3 separate regions of the Homo sapiens genome follow, and all the other regions are reported to be linked to region 1. Evidence: microRNA targets listed by miRTarBase, many of them from high-throughput screens and not tested one by one. Region 1 holds a microRNA gene; each other region holds the end of a gene's coding sequence.
Evidence for each region. Region 1 holds the annotated microRNA hsa-miR-4282 (UAAAAUUUGCAUCCAGGA, at 2,965-2,982, opposite strand). A microRNA usually pairs through its seed, bases 2 to 8, with sites in the 3' UTR of a target mRNA and lowers its output. Matches are read on the target gene's strand: a 7mer-m8 pairs with bases 2 to 8, a 7mer-A1 pairs with bases 2 to 7 and ends in A, and an 8mer does both.

Region 1 (4,245 bases):
AAAATGTATTTATGAGGTGAAATAACACCTATGGCACCTTTGTGGCCCTTTACAGAGCAACAAAAAAATTTTAGTCTCCCAACATTCGGGTTCTCAACTGAGTTTGAACAAACTGACACTCTTGTCTTCTTGTTTCAGCACTCACACTGTAAACATGTGTCCCTTGCAAGACCTATTTTCTGCTGTTTTTCACATTTTCGTGCTTTTTTTAAAAAAAAATTCTTTTTTGGTTTACGTTTTATTTATCTATTTGTTTATTTTGTAGAAATTGGGTCTCACTACGTTTCCTAGGCTGGTCTCAAACTCCTGGTCTCAAGTGATCCTCCCACCTCGGCCTCGAGTGCTGGGGTTACAGGCATGCTCAGCCTTTTGTGCTTTTTGTTGATAATTTCACCACTTAAAATTGGCCCCAAGAGTAGTGCTGAAGTGCTGTCTACTGTTCCAAAGCACAAGAAGGCTGTGATGAGCCTCTTGGAGAAAACACAGTTGGTTAGATAAGCTTCTTTCAGGCATGAGTTACAGTGCTCTTGGCTGTGAGTTCAACATTAGTGAATCAACAATATTAAATAACGTATCATTAAATGGAAGCACAGGTAAAACAATAATATGTATTGATAAGTTGATAAAACTGATGAGACCAGAGGCTCCTGGGGACTTAGTCCTGTATATCCCTACGAGCAATGGCTTGGTATTTACTAATTCAGTGTTTGTAGTGACTTTACAGAACATAACTGCCACTGCAAATAATGAGAAATGGCTGTATCTCCTTCTGTTTTTTTCTTTCCTAGAAGCCATTTTCTCAACATTTCATCGTGAACTATTATGGCCTCATCGGGAATGTGAAGTGTGTCATCTGAGCAGATGTTCTTATTGTTTTCCTATCCACTGACCCACAGCATCAAACAATTTAGAGGAGAAAAGTGGTCCTGTCATCTCCAGAGTTATTATCTATTTTATTTTTAAATCCAAACTTCCACAATCAAGTTGCTATTAAGGTTTATCTTATTAGCATTTAAATTTTTAGGAAATGCTCATTACTGGGTTAAGCACAAAAAAGTCACATTGCTTGAAAAGTGCTATTTGTAAAACAGAATGGCCCACTTTGTCTATGTGTAAGAGGATCTGCTGCACATTTTTACCTGGAATAATATTGTCATGGATTTGGACATATGTGGAAGTGCTATTTGTGTTTATGCAGATCAACCTCTTGGTTTTACAGAAGAGAGATGCCAGTCCCAGGGAGGTTAAAGTGCCTGCCCAAGGCCGTGTGCTGGAGCAGAAGGGGAGGTGCTGCCTCCAGTCGAGTTAGAGCACTTCCCACCATCCACCACCATCAGGTCCTGAAGCCAAATACAGAAGATAGCATATATTTTTATTACTTTGAGATATCATCCTGAGCCCAAGAAGAATTTCTTGTTGCTGTCTCATAAATATATTACTTTGTTATTTATTAGTTTAGGCAGTTTATGACTAGCAGTCAAATATTCCCAATAAGGTTCGAATCAAAAATGTTATTTTGTTTTTGTATTATAAAAAGAAAAGCAGGCTAGGTGTGGTGGCTCATGCCTGTAATCCCAGAACTTTGGGAGGCCAAGGCGGGCGGATCACCTGAAGTTAGGAGTTCGAAACTAGCCTGGCCAACATGGTGAAACCCTGTCTCTATTAAAAATAACAAAAAAAAAAAAAATAGTTGGGCATGGTGGCAGGCGCCTGTAATCCCAGCTACTCAGGAGGCTGAGGAAGGAGAATCTCTTGAACCCGGGAGGCAGAGGTTGCAGTGAGGCAAGATCACCACACTGCACTTCAGCCTCGGTGACAAGAGTGAAACTCCATCAAAGAAAGAAAGAAAGAAAAAGAGAGAGAGAAAAAAAAGAAAAGCATATTTTGAAAGGTATCCTCTTAAATTTGTGGTGACCCTCAAATATTTATGCTAAAACTTAACTTTCAGTATGGAAACAGAAACATGGGTTCAATTTAAAATCCATGACTGGATCATGAGCAGGGCAAAGTGAGAGGCATTGTGAGATAGGGCCAAATGCTTCGAGAATTTACTCCATACAGACTGTGTTCAGGAACCCAGCACTTCCTCTGTGACTCAATAACTGGCACATATGGTTGCCAGGGACTACCAACAGCTGATTTCAATAAAAGTTACCCAATTACACCTTGAAGACCTGTTGTTTCTGGAGGGAGTTGGAGGAATTAAGGAATGTGGACTGAGTTTTTAAAATATATCTTACAGAAGTCAGAGGAAGATATAGAAGGACAGGAATATACTCAAGATACAATATTTTCTTCTACTGTACTTTTTGTTACATGGAACAGAATTTTAGCATTGGATCCCTTCAGCTGTGACAAAGGAGAAGGTCCATGGTTATAAAGTTTTCCATTAGACTCTCCTCACACACAGGAAATGAACTTCCATAAATTTAATGATATGACTCTTAGGGTTTTATTTCTCCCATTTTATAACCCTCTTTAGGATAGAAACACATTTCTTGCACTATAAAAATTTTAGTCAGCAAATTTTTCATATTCTCACTGGGATTTCATAATCAGTCTGTACACCCTTCCTATGCAATAACTTTTGATCAGTATAGTGAAATATAATGGTATTATGTAATTTTAAGATGTACATCTTAAAGACAAAAAAATATCCCTTTATTTAATTCAAGATAAATAAATCAGTGAGGAAAATGTATGGTGAAAAGTTTGGGCATATATTAGTTATCTTTCAATATATTTTTCATTTTTTTCTTTTTATTTCCTTCAACCATATGATGCAATCAACGGATATTTGTTGGGTGCTTTGATGTTTTCAGATCTATGCTATGCACTACAAGGGTCTCAAAAAGGAATGAAGAACAAAGTCCCTGCTCTCAAGAATGTAGAGTTTTCCATACAAGGTTCTAAAAACCATTAAGGTCACTTAAGATATCAGTCAGAAGGTGAATAGGATGATGTTCCTGGATGCAAATTTTAGAAATGTGGCATACTAAAATCTTCCCCTGGAACTTCACCATTCACACCTAAGAAGTTAAAGATGTCTCAGTAGGTTCTCACTATGTTGTCTAGGCAGGTCTCAAACTTCTGGCCTCAAGAGATCCCTATACCTTGGCCTCCCAACGTGTGGAGGTTACAGGCATAAGCCACTGCACCTGACCCATTTTCTCCTTCTGAAAACTCTTTTGGATTTTAGGATACCATGTTCTTTGGATTCTTCCCTGCTTACTCTGACCTTCCTTCTTGACCCTCACTGTCTCTTCCTCATTCGCAGGGCCACTTCTCCTTAGCGACCCCAACACAACCAAGTCTCAAAATTGGACATCTGATATATGTGACAAAGATATGTTTTCATTTATATAAAATGTGAATAGAAACTTACATACACACACACAAACATACAAACACACACACACTCACAGTGTCTCAGAAGTTCTGCAACAAAGAAATACAGTTATTGTCATTGAACCCAGAACTCCCTAAGTGTTTTTGACAGAGCAACTTTTTCTTGAGACAGATCTATAAAAATCTCTTGGGATAGTGGTGTTCTATGGAAAACAGTCTGGGGAATACTGAATTAGAGAACCGTGTGAGACATTTTATTATTAACATGCAAACTCAAAGTACTGAAAGTGTAGAGAAGAGAAATATCATTATGATCTAGACGGGTGAAGAAAAGAATCTCAAAGGAGGATAGACTTTTAAAGAAATAAGTGAAAAAAAAAACAGAACATGTGATGAGGAGGGGGAAATTCAGATTATATCTCCCAAATTGATGATATTGATTATTTGAAAGAGGAAGGCAAAGGTGTAGACAATGATTATTAGGGACTTTGACTTTCTAAGTTATACATTTCTATATTGTTTATGTACTTGTTTTTACAAAGTTTTACAAATGTTTTATGAAGTGGCTTATTCTTATAATCCAGAGATATTCTCCTAAAACTAACTAAAGTTTATTTATCAGATTAACTAATGATGTGTATAGCTCTTACTTCCACAATTATCCATATATACATATATGCAATATTTACAAACATAGAGATGTACAAATATAATATCTCGGCCAAAAATAATTGAAGCATCAAAGTCAACCTACATTGTAATCTTGGGCAGCACCTGTTGTTTATTCATCTCTCAAGTGTGGCTGACTTCAGGGATGAGAATAAACAATGTGATCTCTTACTAAGCTTCCCTTTGGACTAGTCATCCAATTGGTATGTGATGACTTTATACCTGAAA
Region 2 (4,245 bases), not on the chromosome of region 1:
ATACTTTGATGGATAACTTAAATCTTTGCAATATTATTTTTTTAAACCAGAAAATACCCCTTATAAACCAAATAAATGCTGAGTAACATAGGAAAGGTTAAAAAATAAGTCTCAAAGGTTTGCTTTGAGGACTAACCAAGGTAATACATATAAAGCACCTAGCCAATGCTTTGCACACTAGCCCATTAAGGATCAATTGTTCCCATTCCAATCTGTTAAGATTTTAATCCAACAGAAACCCTTGGTCTGAATGGTTTAAAAGTAGTCTCGGCCCCCAACAAGGAGTCTGATAATAAACTGGTCTCTCACTCACCTCCAAGCTGACCTTCCTGTTGTTCAAGGAAGTTTCCGGTTGCAGCTTCTGCGTTGATTCTTCTTCCTCAGGTCTGTCTGACTTGTATTAATGCCAAGTGCATCACAGAGGAACATAAGACTCACACATTGGGATTTTGTTTACTTTTCATTTATTCACATTTCATGGATTGTTACACTTCCTCGATGGGAGCATTCAAAAACTAATACAAGCTGAGATTATATTGTCTGACAATTCAAGTATTTTAGTTTTAGAAAACAATTTCCTATTTAAAGTAAAAAGCAAACAATTTATCCATCTGATTGCTAAGAAGTTTTACATCTCCATTACAATTGTGTCTGCATCAAACGGAGAGTCCTTCGTCCTCAGTATGATTGTTACTGGCTGAGAACATACGGTGACCTGTGTTCTGAGTGCCTGCTTGGAAAAGACCTCCCTGTCATCTGCCATACTACGGGACAAATCAGTATCTACTCAAATTCCCACTTCCAGAATGAGAGGACTCATCAGGGGTTTAGGAGTTTGCAAAGCCTTCAAAATGTATCGTGCTTGAATTTTGACTCTTCTGAAATAGAATAACTGACAAATGCTCAAAAAACAAACTTGTTTAACTTTTACTGAAAAGGCTCTCAGTGAAAACTTGTTTTGAACTCTACTAGTAAGGTAGAATATTAGTTTTTCTTCCCCTCCACACCAGAAAAGGCAGTTTTCTCTTTTTTTTTTTTTTGGCATGCAGCATATATAAAATGTGATCTAGAATTGAAATTGTAAAACAGAATAATCCTCTTAAAGAAAATCAGCCTATGAACAGTCAGACTTGTCCTTCCATGGAAAACATAATCTAAACTTCTTTAAAAACTGGCCATATTTTTTCAGTCTGTAATTCGAATAATGAAGATGGCATAACAAATTTTTTTGCTTACTAGGAATGCGCAAAAGGATGAGATGGATACACAGGTTTTAAAAAAAAAAAAAAAAAGGCCACTGGGATATTTAGTATTTGTCCAGATGCAAAACAATTTCAGAATAACAAAATACACACCTTGCTTTAGGCCACGTATATGATACACTTCATAGATTCTCAAACAAAAGATGAAAATTTCAGTCCACATTAAACATTTTAAAGCATAACTTCTAATATTTTGTTAAAAATAAGTCAAACTAAACGCATAAATCAGAATTACCTGTTAACATAGTGGGGAAAGTAGGGAAGCCCTCCAGGGGCCCCGTGCCCCAAGTAAAAGACAAGGAGTTAAATTTTACAATGAAATCCACGTATACTCAGGCTCTTTACACTAATAATCAAAGTGGAGACCAACCAGTTCCTAAAGCATAAAAGAGTGATTTTAAGAAAATATCACATTTTGAGTTACGGTATATTCATCACATTTTTCCCTGTAATTTTCACTTTAACAGTGATAGTCTTAGCAGCAAAAATTTGCTGGGAATGTTAGGAAAAAAGGAAGCCACACATACCTACTAATTTAAAAATATATAAACTATTTTTTACAGAAGGGCAGGTTTAAAAGAAAATCCAATCATGATCTTTTCATGCCATTTTTTGTCAACTTTCCATACACACGCAGACGCTAACAAAGTACTGTGTCATATACACTGAAGTGTCCTGAAGATGCCTGTGAGCTGCTGATTCCAGCTGGTACCAGGGAAGCATGTGTGGCTAAGTTGCAACAAACTTAAATTTGTTCCCCTTAGTTCTTCATCTTTTTAAAAGCTGAATAAACTTAATGTCAATCGGGTGGGGCCGGTATTAACAGCATCAACCGCTTGCTTACTATGAATCATCCGCAACAGAAACCCACGTGCATTCTCCATTCTTAAAAAGTCAGTGTAAAACTAACGGCCACTTCCTCCCTAGGTGCCTACTATCGCTATGTCTGACAGCATCTGTAACAGGACAAGCTCACCTCTCTCTACACGGATTCATCCAAAGCCACACACTAGGCCAAATTCTCCCAGTGGAATCAAAACACTGGAAGTAGAGCAAGAACCTCATGCCAACATTGGCCCAATCACACCTCAGTGACTTAGGAGTTCATCATATTTGATCATAAAATTGCTCCCGGCGCCAAACCTTACACCTAAAGACTGTAGTTTTAAAAAGCCACTGTACCGTCCACAATTATTCTGACCACTCTTTTCTAAATGGAGAATGTGCTACGCACTGAAGATCAGAACACACACGCGGGAGCCCTTGGGCACTGACCCTGAGCCTGTACACAAGATCAGCTGGTACTAGTCTCAAATGATTCATGAGGACTCAGTGGAAATTTAAACATTCAATTCTGTGTATCATTCATGTGCCCAGAGTCTTCAAAGAATGCTCGTGTTAGTTACCTGACACCTCTGGAGAAGTGACAGGGATATTCGTGTGAATAACCATGGCTCCCTTCCAGACAGACATATGGAATCTTACTCTTAAAAAAGTAAAGATATTTCAGATATCAAATGTATTATAATATACTGCGGTCTAAAGTTAAAGGCAAAGTTTACACACGATTTTCTCTTCCATGACTTTATTACATGTTTCCTAGTGAATTCACACGGCTCGTGTGTCAAAGCTCCCAGGCACGTCACTTGGTCACAGTTTTCATGTGCGTGGGGTTGATCATGGTACAAATGCCTATGCGCATCTTTTTCTCGGATGGTCTCATTTGACTTTCATTTCGTAAGGGTTCACTCTCCATGGTGTAGATGATAAGCTACCACATTTGTGCTTTTAAACCCATTCCTGGCAATCCCCCTTTATCTTCATTTTGTCTTTAGGGGGATAAAGAAGTAACACTACCTCATGAATAGAAACTATGAAGCCAAAAAACTCCTTCACAAGCTGTTCATTTCTTTTTAGAATGAAAATGCAGGTCCTGAATTCTCGTGAAGCAGCCCACAGGGTTACAGGCCAATGATTCGAACGCTGAGGTGAACACTTAGTACTCGCATTTGAGCTTCAAAGTAAAAATAAAGCAGAGGACAAACGCCTGTCACAGCGTGGCAGCCCGGTTCATTTGGTAACAGAACAAGTCTCACACGTCGGCTGAGCCCACCGGAGAGAAGCACACAGGCCAGCTTCCTTCTGAACACAGCCAGGCACCTGTTCAAAAGCCTCTCTCGTGGTGGCGGTGGACCCCAAAACCCACGGGTTGGAAGAGCCTTTGGGAAAGCAAATTGATACCCTGATTGCAGTCCTTGAAGAAATCACTTAGGGTTAGTTTAATAAACGAACATTAAAAAATCTTCCAAAAATTGCATTCAAATGTATTTTACACTTTAGGCAGTTCTTAAGAAGGGAGAGTGCAGTTTCTTGACACTTAACATTTAAAGGTTTTATTGGCCACATTAATCTTCCTCACAAAAGTTTTAAGTTATCTATAAGTTCTTAGAATGTCAAAGAAGAGAAGAAAAACTGACTAACTTTAAGGGGCGGTGGAAGCAGCAGCAACTTGGCAATAATTCTGCAGCCGACTTTGCGTGTTCAGGCATCCTTTTTCTCCAGTAAAATTTTGTGCAACTCGTCTGCATCCTCGCTGGTTTTTACCCGAATCAACATGGTGACTGGCATGGTGGCATTCTTCTCGTCAATTGGTGGATTTGGAACACAGACGATAAGAACGTTATTCTTCCCTGTTCGCGTACATGGCATATTGGGTGGAATCAGAACGTTCAGCAATATGTTGCCTGCATTCAAACAAACAAAACCCATCAAAATTATAGAAGCTATAGCTCCACCAAAGGAGTCTGTAATATGCTAAACATTAAATGCTGAAATAACTTAATACATCTAAGACAGGGAGCCAACAGGACAGCACAAAATCAGGACTGGTTCCCTGAGAACTGGGAGGCCTCGGGGAGCACTTGCCCTCACTGTGAGGAGTGGCCTTCCGTCCTCCCTCCAGCCCGGGTCTCTGCACCCACAC
Region 3 (4,245 bases), not on the chromosome of region 1:
GGCCGTTAGTGGTAGTAATAATACATGCTGAAAAAAAACAACTGGTGAAGAAGATACTGAATTGTACCTGAGATTTATACCATTTGCTGTTAAAAAAAAAAAAAAAAAAAAAGCCATACTACTCCCAAATACCTCCGCGCAATGTTTTCCAGTCATTAATTCAACAGCAGAATAGGGGATAGGACAAATGTCCTTATGCTCATGGAATTAATTTTAACGCCAGGTAGTTTAGCTTCTATGTTAAGTGCTAGAGAGCAGCATCCGTTAAATCTGGTGGCTGCAGCAGAGCACTTCCCTAGGAACCGACTGCACACGCCCAATTCAGAAGGAAGTGAGCACTGATTCCCGGCAGCCAACTCCCGTTCGCGCAGCCGCTGCCACCGGCCCTTAAGACGATGTGACCGCCAATTTTGTAACAGTGACGTCACCCGACGTCTGCAGGCCCTGACAGTTGGCTCTAGCGGGTGCGCAGTCTCCCTACCCCCGGTAAGGGGCTCTACCGGCCCTGGACCCAAGATGGGACTCCTACCTCCGACCACCCGGAGCAGCGGCGCCCCAGATCCGGCCGTCCGCCCTGCGCGTGCGCGGCCCGACCCCGCCGCGGTCTGGCTGTAAGGGCGCTGGAGGGGAGCTGGGCTGCCCCAGCCTTCAATGCTGGAGGGACGGCCGCGTGGGGCTTCAGAAAGGCTAGGCGCCGAGGAGTGTAAGCAGCGTGTGCCCATTTAAAGACAAAATCAGTGTGTTTTTCAGGTTTGTACGAAATGAAGTTGTAGAAAGATTAACAAGGGTTACCTGGGAAAGGCAGATTTTCAACTTAGCGTTTACATGTTCACCCAGTGCATTATTTTATTTAAAAAGAAGAAAAATATATACTTAACGGCTCCTAATCCAGCTCTCTTTGCCTGGTCTCCCAAGACACCTATCATTTTGCCCAGCACATACCTTGCCGCTGTGCCACACTGGAGTCCCCGGTTAGGTTCCCTGTGCTTAGACCGCCCCCTAGTCCCTCCAGGAAGCCTTTCCCAACCCTTTCGCGTTAACTGCCCGCCTCATCATCACAAAGGTAACTTGAGCTTTTATCAGTTTTAATTACTCCTTTTAATTTGCTCTTCTTCCCTATGTTTAGGCAGAAACGAGTCTTTTTTTAACCATATTCATCACCTGGTGCCAGCAACAGAAGTGTTCCCTAAAAATTCCTAGAATAAACCAACACGTGCTGACTAGATTCTCCATCTTCATAAACGGTGATACAAACTATGCACATCATAACTACCAGCTTCATGAGGTCAAGACTAAATCAAAAATTCTCAAGGACTTTTCTAAAAATTTTTTTAGCATAAACTGTTTCCTCTAACTTAAACTTCTCTTAAGTGAACGTGTCTTTCCACTGGGATGACTGTCTACATGCTCAGGAATCCTGAATTCATGACTATGTTCAACTCCCACGACCATTTTTAAATCATCAAAATGGCAGCAAATGTCATTACCTGGACCAAAAAGCTGCAGGTTTTGTGGCAAATGGGAAATGTGTTATAGAATATGACTGGGAAAGAGGGATTTCTTAGTGCTGCCCAGAATTAATTCAGCAAACACTGAACATTACTACGTGCCACATATAGGATCATACTGCATTTCAGGTCACCATCAAAGGTAAATTACAAGGCTGGGCGCAGTGGCTCATGCCTGTAATCCCAGCACTTTGGGAGGCCAGGGCAGGCGGATCACCTGAGGTCAGGAGTTCAAGACCAGCCTGGCCAACATGGCAAAACCCCCGCTCTACTAAAAATACAAAAATTAGCCAGGCATGCTGGCATGCGCCTGTAGTCCCAGCTACTTGGGAGGCTAAGGCAGGAGAATCGCTTGAACCTGGGAAGTGGAAGTTGCAGTTAGCTGAGATGGCACCACTGCACTCCAGCCTGGGCAACAGAGCAAGACTCCATCTCAGAAAAATAAAATAAATTTTTTAAAAAGGTAAATTACAAGACTGCAAAACTTTTTAAAAAAACCTTCCCCACTAGTTTGTACCTAATAAATGCTAACATTTAAAAGGGGGCACAAAAGGCCTGCAGAAATAAGAACTCACGTTCTTGAAAGTACTGCCTAGCATGGTATCTTCCTCATCATCAGAGGTGCTCTATACATCTTCAGTTGAAACGTGAAACAGACATCCATATGCAAAATATTTTCAAGGGTTTTGTTGGCTTTTACATGTTTTTCTTTAGATAACTGGTAATGATGCACATTACAAAGGAGACTTTTCTAAATCTCAAGTCCTTTGCTAATTTTTCTTTGGAACAACAGCACATTTTCAATGCCAAACCTTCTCCTACAACATACAAAGGGGAGATGCCAAAACTCTGAATTCTTGTAACGGATCCTGCAACTAGTTCTATCCAGAAGATGGAGACAATATTCCCTGGAGTTGACTGAACATGTGAGAAGGCACAGCTCAGAAGGAGAGGAAGGCTGAGGGCAGTGAAATGAGAACCTATGCATCACCTGGCCTTTTTACATGTTAGTCTATCCTACTATCCCAGGAATTCACTTCTGCTGTACTTGAGATTCAGGGATAATAATGTGACTCCTCCTCCCACATTCTAAGTAAATATGTTAACTAGATGAGCATTTATGTACATTTTAGAACAAAGTCTCCAGAAAGGTATAAAGTTTATTAACATCTTTAAAAAAAAAAAAAAAAAAAAAGATGGGCCGGGCATGGTGGCTCACGCCTGTGATCCCAGCACTTTGGGAGGCCAAGGCGGGTGGATCCTTTGAGGTCAGGAGTTTGAGACCAGCCTGGCCAACATGGTGAAACCCCATCTCTACTAAAAATACAAAAAAATTAGCCAGGCATGGTGTCGCACACCTGTAGTCCCCAGCTACTCGGGAGGCTGAGGCAAGAGAATCGCTTGAACCTGGGAGGCGGAGGTTGCAGTGAACCAAGATCGTGCCGCTGCACTCCAGCCTGGGCAACAAGCAAAACTCCATCTCAAAAAAAAAAAAAAAGATGGAACAGAACACAGCTACTGAATATGATATAGTTCCTTATTTACAAGTTTTACTATGGGAGGGACATTTTCCTCAGCATTTCAAATAATCAGAGGAGTAGAATTTTTTTCTAGAAATATCAGTATTTCACTCTCCAGGTCGAAGATTAATGAAAACATTAAGTGACTGCACCAGTTAGAAGAAGATAAACTAATACCTTAAAAATATATAAAAAAAGAAAGGGTAGTTGCTACTTAAACATGAATTTTCACAAAATTATTCTGTGACTAATTCAGACAATCTATTTGCTTAGAAAAGCTGGCAAAAAAAAAAAAAAGCACATTACATGAATATGCTTCATTTAAGTACATGCTTTCGAGCTGATTTAAAAAGAAAAGTTGAATTATGGTTTCCAGAGCTTTAGGAGTCCATCTTCACTGTAGGTAGCAATCAGGTTCTGATGAGGGTGATGTGCAATACCAATCACATCCTTCTCGTGCACCTGGAACATGTAAAGCACAGGGTTAGGATGTACAGATCTGCAATAAATCACTCTGATGAGGCTTCCAGAGGTGGGTGGAAGGGAAAAAGAGATCTTGGGAGGCCACATATTCCAAATGGCATAGGAGAAAGATGGAGGAGGGTTTTCCAACTCACATCACATTGTGACATAATAATAAACTTTAGGCTGGGCGCAGTGGCTCATGTCTGCAATCCCAGTACTTTGGGAGGCAGAGGCGGGTGGATCACTTGAGGTCAGGAGTTCAAGACCAGCCTGGCCAACAGGGTGAAACCCCGTCTCCACTAAAGATACAAAAAATTAGCCAGGAGTGGTGGCATGTGCCTGTAGTCCCAGTTACTTGGGAGGCTGAGGCAGGAGAATCACTTGAAACCAGGAGGCAGAGGTTGTAGTGAGCCGAGATCACACCACTGCACTCCAGCCTGGGTGACAGAGTGAGACTCCCTCTCAAAATAAAATAAAATAAAATAAAAATAAACAAACTTATATAGTGTTAAGCCACCGAGATTTGGGGATCATCATAGCAGCTGACATTAATTTTACTTCTTGAATTTGACATGGAGCTAAATGTTTTAAAACAACATATTTTATACTGAGGGTCACATCGATAGCTCTGGAAAAGGCACATACTTCAGAGTTCAGAAAGACACAAGTCCTACCATATTTCTTTAGATGAACTTAGTAAGTAATACTCACTGTCAAAGTTCTCTCCAGTTTGCCAGTGACTGTACTGAAAC

Region 2: the mRNA of NUP50 is a reported target of hsa-miR-4282. Seed matches in the 3' UTR shown: 7mer-A1 at 2,383-2,389, 7mer-m8 at 1,747-1,753 and 7mer-m8 at 1,409-1,415.
Region 3: the mRNA of SMU1 is a reported target of hsa-miR-4282. Seed matches in the 3' UTR shown: 7mer-m8 at 1,323-1,329.

Annotation. Positions count from the first base shown.
Region 1 is chr6:72,964,733-72,968,977 of GRCh38, forward strand. MIR4282 (microRNA 4282) reads right to left here and starts at 3,021; the gene lies at 2,955-3,021. All of the region lies in intron 1 of KCNQ5 (potassium voltage-gated channel subfamily Q member 5), which reads left to right. The region is part of intron 3 of LOC105377855 (a long non-coding RNA gene); the gene reads right to left.
Region 2 is chr22:45,184,214-45,188,458 of GRCh38, reverse strand. It overlaps NUP50 (nucleoporin 50), which reads right to left. Exons shown (of 8, transcript NM_007172.4): 8 at 442-4,006. The coding sequence ends at 3,804. All of the region lies in intron 3 of LOC105373064 (a long non-coding RNA gene), which reads left to right. Among named protein-coding and RNA genes, the nearest start is that of MIR1249, 15 kb to the left of the region's middle.
Region 3 is chr9:33,043,902-33,048,146 of GRCh38, forward strand. It overlaps SMU1 (SMU1 DNA replication regulator and spliceosomal factor), which reads right to left. Exons shown (of 12, transcript NM_018225.3): 11 at 4,205-4,245; 12 at 1-3,490. The coding sequence ends at 3,392. Among named protein-coding and RNA genes, the nearest start is that of DNAJA1, 21 kb to the left of the region's middle. RefSeq lists an enhancer at 82-583 and a silencer at 438-757.